Linked DNA regions of Homo sapiens: regions 1 and 2 are each linked to region 3. The links come from fine-mapping of genetic effects on gene expression. A gene starts in region 3. Each other region holds a variant in brackets. All regions are shown on one strand. Distances are between the middles of the regions.

Region 1 (2,768 bases), 22 kb after region 3:
AAAGATTCCTTCTCAAACAGTGGCAGCAACGATGTCATCAAACCAACTTGGAAAGAATTGTTTTCTCAGAGAATTAAACCACACGAAATCAATTAAATCAGTGTGCAATGAATTACACAAGTTTTCTGGTTAGAAAGACCTGACAGTACCTGCTTGGTAATACTGGCTTATTTAAATAATAGGGATTGTAGCAAACGATGTGGTCATAATGGACTCATGTAAAATGGAGCCTTATTAAGGGTTAGCTTGTCAGGTGTCATCTAAGTACAAGTGAGTGGGCTTTTTTTAGCCCAAGGATGGAATCTGTTTCTGGTGGAGTTATTCTTGTTATTATGTAAATGTTTTTATTGGATATAGGCTTTTTTTTGGGTCCAGATTGCATGTTCAACTTTACCCCAAGTATTTGTGTTGGAAAATTTGAAATTTGCAGAAAAGTTGCAAGAATACTGAGCAACTTTATATTTTGTCACATTTTAGTTTGTCCCTTTCTCTTTATACACACATGTATATATTACTTTTGCTGAACTGTTTAAAAGTAAGTTGCAGAGATCTTGTTCTTTTCCATTGAAATACTTTATCATGTATTTCCCAAGAATAAGGACAATAGCCTACAAAACCAAATATAATGAATTTAACATTAATGTATTATTCATATATCGTCAGTTATTCCTATAGTGTCGTTTATATTTGTCTGTTTTAATGAACTGCATTTAATTGTTATGTCTTTTTTGTCTCCTTTAATCTAGAACAGTCCTTTTTGCTTTTTATTTCTTTTGTAACATTAACATTTTTGAAGAGTTTAGGATAGTTCTGCAGAATGTGTCTCAATTTGTATTTGATTGTTTTCTCATAGTTACACTTAGATTAACCATTACTGGCAGAGATATGCCATAGGTCATGAGTTCTCAGTACATAAGGGCACATGACGTCAATTATCCTATTGATGATGTACCTAAGTTTGGACTTGGTTAAGGTGGGTTGCACCAGATTTTGCTATTATGAAAAATACCTTTCCCTTTATAATTAATAAATAATAAGTACCCATTGGTTTTAATAGCCGTTGATTATTTTTACCTGAATCATTTATTTTCTTGTAATGATACTGTAAAATGGTGGTTTTTCCCTCTATTTGTAATTTCGTTGAAATTTATTAGTTGGCAATCTTCATTAGGGAATCTTAGGATTACAGTTTGGCTTCCCACTTAGTAGGCTTGTAGGGGAGATTAGGCTGGGCAGAGATACATGCAGGCATGCATGTATTTTATTTTATTATTATTATTTTTTCAGACAAGGTCTTGCTTTGTTTCTCAGGTTGGAGTGCAGTGGTGTAATCACTGTTCACTGCAGCCTCAACCTCCCAGGTTCAAGCGATCTTCCCACCTCAGCCTTCCTATTAACTAAGACTACAGATGCATGCCACCATGCCCAGCTAATGCTTTATTTTTTGTATAGACAGGTTCTCACCAATTTCCCAGGCTCGTCTTGAACTCTTGGACTTGAGTGATCCTCCCTCCTTGGCCT[C/G]CCAAAGTGCTGGGATCACAGGCATGAGCCACCGTGCCTGGCTTAATTTTGTTGTTGTTGTTAATAGATAAATTGTCCTTGTGGTTTCTATATTAGTCACTTTCGAGCTTTGTTAAATGGATCAACAACCTTATATCCCATCAACTCTTAATAGTTGACTCACTTGAGTTTAAGTTATATATCCTGGAGCAGTCATCTTGACTTTTGCTATTTAATGATGTTTCTTGACAGTTAGCAAGTTATATAGCTTGTTCTGGGTGAAACCCTTCTGCCTTGCATCTTTACCCATTTGTATTCCATTTTTACAGTGATTTATTTCAAGGCAATGAGGACAAGGAGGATGCAAAATCAAAAAAGGCATTGGATTTAATGGTTAAAGGTGGTGTATAAGGGACAGGAATGCAGTTTGAGTAAAATGGTGAATACTTCTAGATAGGCACAAAAATTTTATTTCCCCTAGTTCACTTTTTAAAAATTAATAAACTTTATTTTTTAGAGCAGTTTTAGCTTTATGGCAAAATTGAGGGGAAAGTAGAGTTCCCATATTCCACCCCCTCTTTTTCCCACTGTTGACATCCAGCACACTGGCACATTTGTTTCCAGTGGTGAACTTACATTAGCATATTATTGTCACCCAGTGTTCATAGTTTACATTAGGGTTTATTCTTGGCATTGTACATTCTATAGGTTTTCACAAATGTTTAATGACATGTATCCCACATTGTGGTGTCATACAAAATAGTTTCATTGCCTAAAAATCCTGTTTATTTTGTCTGTTCATTCTTCCTTCCCCCTTAGCCCCTGTCAGTCACTAATCTTTTTACTGTCTCCATAGTTTTACCTTCTCCAGGATGTTGTATAGATGGAATTGTACAGTATGTAGCCTTTTCACATTGGCTTCTTTCACTAAATAACATGCATTTAGGATTCATTCTTTCTTTCCATGGTTTGATAGCTAATTTCTTTTTTTGTCTGAATGCACCATAATTTATCCAGTCAGCTAGTGGTGGTTTGTGGATTTTGGCAATTATGAATAAAGGTGCTTATAAACATTTGTATGCAGGTTTTTTTGTGGCCAGAAGTTTTCAATTTATTGGGATAAATAACAAGAAGCCTGATTGCTGGATAGTATAGTAAAAGTATGTTTTGGAAGAAACTGCCAAACTGTCTTCCATAGTGGCTGCACCATTTTGCATTCCCACCTGTAGTGAGTGAGAGTTCCTGTTGCTCTACATTCTTGTCAGCAT
Region 2 (2,768 bases), 210 kb after region 3:
GTACCATTCCTTCTGAAACTATTCAAAAAATAGAAAAAGAGGGAATCCTCCCTGACACATTTTGTGAGGCCAGCATCATCCTGATACCAAAACCTGGCAGAGGCACAACAAAAAAAAAAAAAAGAAAATTTCAGGCCAATATCCCTGATGAACACCAATGCAAAAATCCTCAGTAAAATACTGGCAAAATGAATCCAGCCGCACATCAAAAAGCTTATCCACCACGATCAATTTGGCTTCACCCCTGGGATGCAAGGCTGGTTCAACATACACGAATCAATATATGTAATCCATCACATAAACAGAACCAATGACAAAACCACATGGTTATCTCAATAGATGCAGAAAATGTCTTCAATAAAATTCAACAGCCCTTCATGCTAAAAACTTTCAATAAACTAGGTATTGATGGGACATATCTCAGAATAATAAGAGCTATTTATGACAAACCCATAGGCTATATAATACTGAATGGACAGAAGCTGGAAGCATTCCCTTTGAAAACTGGCACATGACAGGGATGCCCTCTCTTACCAGTCCTATTAAACATAGTATTGGAAGTTCTGGCCAGGGCAATCAGGAAAGAGAAAGAAATAAAAGGTTTTCAAATAGGAAGAGAAGAAGTCAAATTGCCTCTGTTTGCAGATGACATGATTCTATATTTAGAAAACTCCATCGTCTTAGCTCAAAAACTCCTTAAGCTGATAAGCAACTTCAGCAAAGTCTCAGGATAAAAAATCAATGTGCAAAAATTACAGGCATTCCTATACACCAATAATAGACAAGCAGAGAACCAAATCATGAGTGAACTCACATTCACAATTGCTACAAAGAGAATAAAATACCTAGGATTACAACTTACAAGGGATGTGAAGGACCTTTTCCAGGAGAACTAAAACCACTGCTCAAGGAAATAAGAGAGGACACAAACAAATGGAAAAACATTTCATGCTCATGGATAGGAAGAATCAGTATCATGAAAATGGTCAACCTGCCCAAAGTAATTTATAGATTCAATGCTATTTCCCTCAAGCTACCATTGACTTCCTTCACAGAATTAGAAAATACTACTTAAAATTTTATATGGTACCAAAAAGGAACCTGTATAGCCAAGACAATCCTAGCAAATAGAACAAAGCTGGAGGCATCACGCTACCTGACTTCAAACTACACTAGAAGTCTACAGTAACAAATACAGCATGGTACTTGTACCAAAACAGATATATAGACCAGT[G/A]GAACAGAACACAGGCCTCAGAAATAACACCACACATCTATAACCATTTGATCTTCCACAAACCTGACACAAACAAGCAATGGGGAAAGGATTCCCTATTTAATAAATGGTGATGGGAAAACTGGCTAATCATATGCAGAAAACAGAAACTGGACCCCTTCCTTACACCTTATACAAAAATTAACTCAAGATGAATTAAAGACTTAAACTTAAGACCTAAAACCATAAAAACCCTAGAAGAAAACCTAGGCAATACCATTCAGGACATAGGCATGGGCAAGGACTTCATGACTAGAACACCAAAAGCAATGGCAACAAGAGCTAAAATAGACAAATGGGATCGAATTAAACTAAAGAGCTTCTGCAAAGTGAAAGAAACTATCATCAGAGTGAACAGGCAACCTACAGAATGGGAGACAATTTTTGCCATCTATCTATCGACAAAGGGCTAATATCCAGAATCTGCAAGGAACTTAAACAAAGTTACAAGAAAAATCAAACAACCCCATCAAAAAGTGGGCAAAGGATATGAAGAGACACTTCTCAAAAGAAGACATTTATGTGGCCAACAAACATGAAAAAAAGCTCATCACCACTGGACATTAGAGAAATGCAAATCAAAACCACAATGAGATACCACCTCACACCAGTTAGAATGGCAATCATTAAAAAGTCTGGAAACAACAGATGCTGGAGAGGATGTGGACAAATAGGAATGCTTTTACACTGTTGGTGGAAGTGTAAATTAGTTCAACTATCGTGGAAGACCAGATGGCGAGTCCTCAAGGATCTAGAACCAGAAATACCATTTGACCCAGCGATCCCATTACTGGGTATATACTGAAAGGATTATAAATCATTTTACTATAAAGACACATGCACACATATGTTTATTGTGGCACTATTCACAATAGCAAAGACTTGGAACCAACCCAAATGCCCATCAATGATAGACTGGATAAAGAAAATGTGGCACATGTACACCATGGAATACTATGCAGCCATAAAAAAAGAGTGAGTTTATGTCCTTTGCAGGGGCATGGATTAAGCATTCTTAGTAAATTAACACAGGAACAAAAAACCAAATACCATATGTTCTCACTCATAAGTGGAAGTTTAACAGTGAGAACACGTGGACATAGGGAGGGGAAAATCACACACTGGGGTCTGTTGGGGGTTGGGAGGAAAGGAGAGGGATAGCATTAGGAAAAATACCTAATGCATGCGGGGCTTAAAACCTAGATGATGGGTTGATGGGTGAAGCAAAACACGATGGCACACGTATACCTATGTAACAAACCTGCATGTTCTGAACATGTATTCCAGAACTTAAAGTAAAATAATAAAAAAAAAATCTGAAAAAAAGAAAAAAAAAATTGTTATACAAACCAAAAAAAAATTAAAAAATCAAAAAACAACTATTAGGGTTATCTATTTCTTCTTGAGTAAACTTTGGAAAAATGTGTCTTTTAAGAAACCTACTTCATCTTGGTTGTTGAACTTATTTCCAATATTCTATTGTTGTCACTTTAAT
Region 3 (2,768 bases):
AGGCAATGCATTGCCTGTATCTTGTCACGTCTTTTAGTGGTCTTTTCTCTTTTTCCTGGGTTTCTATCACAGCCACTTGCCATCCTGAGTGTTAGTTTGATCATCCTTAGCACAGAAAATATTGATCTCAAAGATCAATATCCAATGGTATTTAATGTGGGATCACTCCTGGGAGAATTTAACAATATTGTTAATTTCAAACCATGGGAAGCTCCCTCTACATGAATGCATAGTTTGTATACATTTTAGTGTAAAAGACAAAATAACACCCTTCTCCTTAATTGTATTAAAAATGAGTTTTCAGTTTATTGCTACTTTTGAAACGATATATAATTATAACTAGCATTCTGGGACATTCTTGACATTTGACTTGTTGAAGGTGCTTGCATTGTGGATCACGTCCTGCAGTCTTTTGCACACAAACCAGGACAAAAGTGCATTGATTAGTGTTTTCTGTGGCACCTCCTCCTCTTCATCAGTATCCAACAGACTTATAATGGCATAGGTAAGTATATGAGACAGTTGATAAAGAAAAACGTATGCAAATACTGGTAGAAATCTTACTTCATAACCACTATTTCTACTCAAATTCTTCACCCTTCTCATATGGTGCCCTTTATTTCGTTTTGGAGTTTCAGAATCTATTTTAACTGTGTGTGTGTGAGATAGTCATAGTGATTTATAGCATGCAACGAAAAAGAAAACATTAATAGTACTGCCCCGATCTTCAAAGCTACCTGACCCCTGCCCGGTTTCTGCGCTGCTGGTTAAGGCTGTTTTTTCCACTGGTCAGGAAGTACGGAACTAGTTTCTGGGCATTTTCCTTTCCCTTTCCCCCTCCTTCCTCTCCACCGCCTCCTGGTCCCCCTCTGGTCTCTCCGGCTTTAACAGCGCCAAGCACCCGCGTGCTCAGGTACCCTTCCCTCTTCTCCCGCCCATCAAACAAAGCCCCGGGAGACAGGCGCGCGCCGCCGGCCACGCCAACAGGAGATGCGGCCGCGCCGCCACACGCTTGGAACCGGAGGAGGACAGCAAGCGCGACCACGCACCGCGCGTCCCCGCCGCTTCCTTCCCTCTGGACTCTTCCTTTTCCTCCCGGCCCGGCCCCCCGCCCCCGCTCCGGGAACGCGCCTGCGCACAAGCTGCCCTCTCCCTTCTCCGCCCTTCCTTCCCTCCGTCCCTCCTCCCCTGCCCCGCCTTCCTTTCTCTCTCTCCCGTTTCACTCACTGAGAGCTCCAGGTAGTGAGCAGTTCAGTCGATTTCCTCGTTACCCCGCCCCCCTTTCTCTTGCCCCCCCACCCCTCTCATCTGCCTGGTGGAGGATGAAGCGGCTGCAGTGGCCCCAGCCTCAGCAGCGGCACCGGCGGTGGCTGCGGTGTGGGTGGCCGGAACTGGGGTGGTGAAGAAGCGGTGGTGGCGGCTGAAGGAGCGGTAGCAGCCTCAGCCTCTTTCCCTGTGCTTCCTTTCCTCTTTAGTGCAGCGAGGAAGTTTTCGCTTCTGTACATGTGTTTGTGTGCGTGAGTGTGGGTGTGTGCGGTGAGGTTTGGGTGGCGTTTGTGCAGGCGTTGGGTTTTTTGCCCACTTGGCTTCCCGTAACCCAGGCAGCTGGGGAGCCTGGGCTGTGGCCCTAGGAGGGGGCGCGGCGGCGGGCTCTCTCCTTTTGTTGTTGTTTCCTCAGCCTGGGGAGCTGAAGGGGAGACGCGTCTGGGTGGGGCTGCTCGGAGCCCGGGCCTGGTGGCCCCTGGGGCTCCCGGGCGGGCAGGGTAGGGCAGAGTAGAGCGGGCTTCAACATGATGGCGGCCGAGGCCGGCAGTGAGGAGGGCGGCCCGGTAACAGCCGGAGCTGGAGGAGGCGGCGCGGCAGCGGGCTCCAGTGCCTATCCCGCAGTGTGTCGGGTGAAGATACCCGCGGCCCTGCCTGTGGCAGCCGCCCCCTATCCTGGGCTGGTGGAGACCGGAGTGGCTGGAACTCTGGGTGGCGGAGCCGCTTTGGGGTCAGAGTTCCTAGGAGCCGGGTCTGTGGCAGGGGCACTGGGGGGAGCTGGACTGACAGGGGGAGGTACTGCTGCTGGCGTAGCTGGTGCTGCTGCTGGCGTGGCCGGTGCTGCTGTTGCTGGACCTAGTGGAGACATGGCTCTCACCAAACTGCCCACTTCGTTGCTTGCTGAGACTCTCGGGCCAGGCGGCGGTTTTCCCCCTCTGCCCCCTCCCCCTTACCTGCCCCCTTTGGGGGCGGGCCTCGGGACAGTGGACGAAGGTGACTCTCTGGATGGACCAGAATACGAGGAGGAAGAGGTGGCCATACCGTTGACCGCTCCTCCAACTAACCAGTAAGTTAAGACTGCTGTTCAGGAATTTGGGAAGCTGGCTCCAGAAAAGAAGTGGAAATGAAGGGGTAAATCATACTTTGTCCTTTTCATCTGTGGTTTGTTAGGAAAAGTTTTTGAAGTTTCAGGTTTCTTGGGTAGGAATTTAATCTGATCACTTATCTTCCTTACAGGCATACTACCTGGCGTCTTCCTACATTTATTGCTCCTCTGGGAAAGTGTAAAGTCTTTAAGATGGAAAGCATGAGAAAATGTGTATCTAATGAGAACCGGATATAGTTCTGTCCCTTCCAAGTTGAGGTGGTGTCCCAGAATTTAGTCAAACTGCGGCTACCAAGGCAGTCATAGTGTATATTAACTTGTGTGTGTTACTTGATAAAGCTAGATGATTAGTGAGAAGCTTTGAATACAGGTGTTTAAACGAGTACTATAGTAATAATTT

Direction of the effects. Alleles are on the strand shown, and positions count from the first base shown. SD is a standard deviation of normalised expression in the study named. Not every link is listed here.
For the expression in testis of the gene that starts at base 1,222 in region 3, C is the high allele of the variant in region 1 and G is the other (small effect, 0.32 SD a copy in GTEx).

What was found. PIP is the estimated chance that this variant, and not a neighbour inherited with it, causes the effect.
Region 1: its variant is fine-mapped to the expression of RASA1 in testis (GTEx, PIP above 0.99). The same link has a PIP of 0.9 or more in tibial nerve.
Region 2: its variant is fine-mapped to the expression of RASA1 in tibial nerve (GTEx, PIP 0.98).

The regions. Positions count from the first base shown.
Region 1 is chr5:87,288,345-87,291,112 of GRCh38, forward strand. The region is part of intron 1 of RASA1 (RAS p21 protein activator 1); the gene reads left to right. Among named protein-coding and RNA genes, the nearest start is that of RASA1, 22 kb to the left of the region's middle. The variant C/G (reference allele first, on the strand shown) is at 1,522.
Region 2 is chr5:87,476,130-87,478,897 of GRCh38, forward strand. All of the region lies in intron 1 of LOC105379066 (a long non-coding RNA gene), which reads left to right. Among named protein-coding and RNA genes, the nearest start is that of CCNH, 65 kb to the left of the region's middle. The variant G/A (reference allele first, on the strand shown) is at 1,235.
Region 3 is chr5:87,266,662-87,269,429 of GRCh38, forward strand. It overlaps RASA1 (RAS p21 protein activator 1), which reads left to right and starts at 1,222. Exons shown (of 25, transcript NM_002890.3): 1 at 1,222-2,329. The coding sequence starts at 1,791. RefSeq lists enhancers at 951-1,245, 1,299-2,186, 1,944-1,993 and silencers at 994-1,243, 1,584-1,763.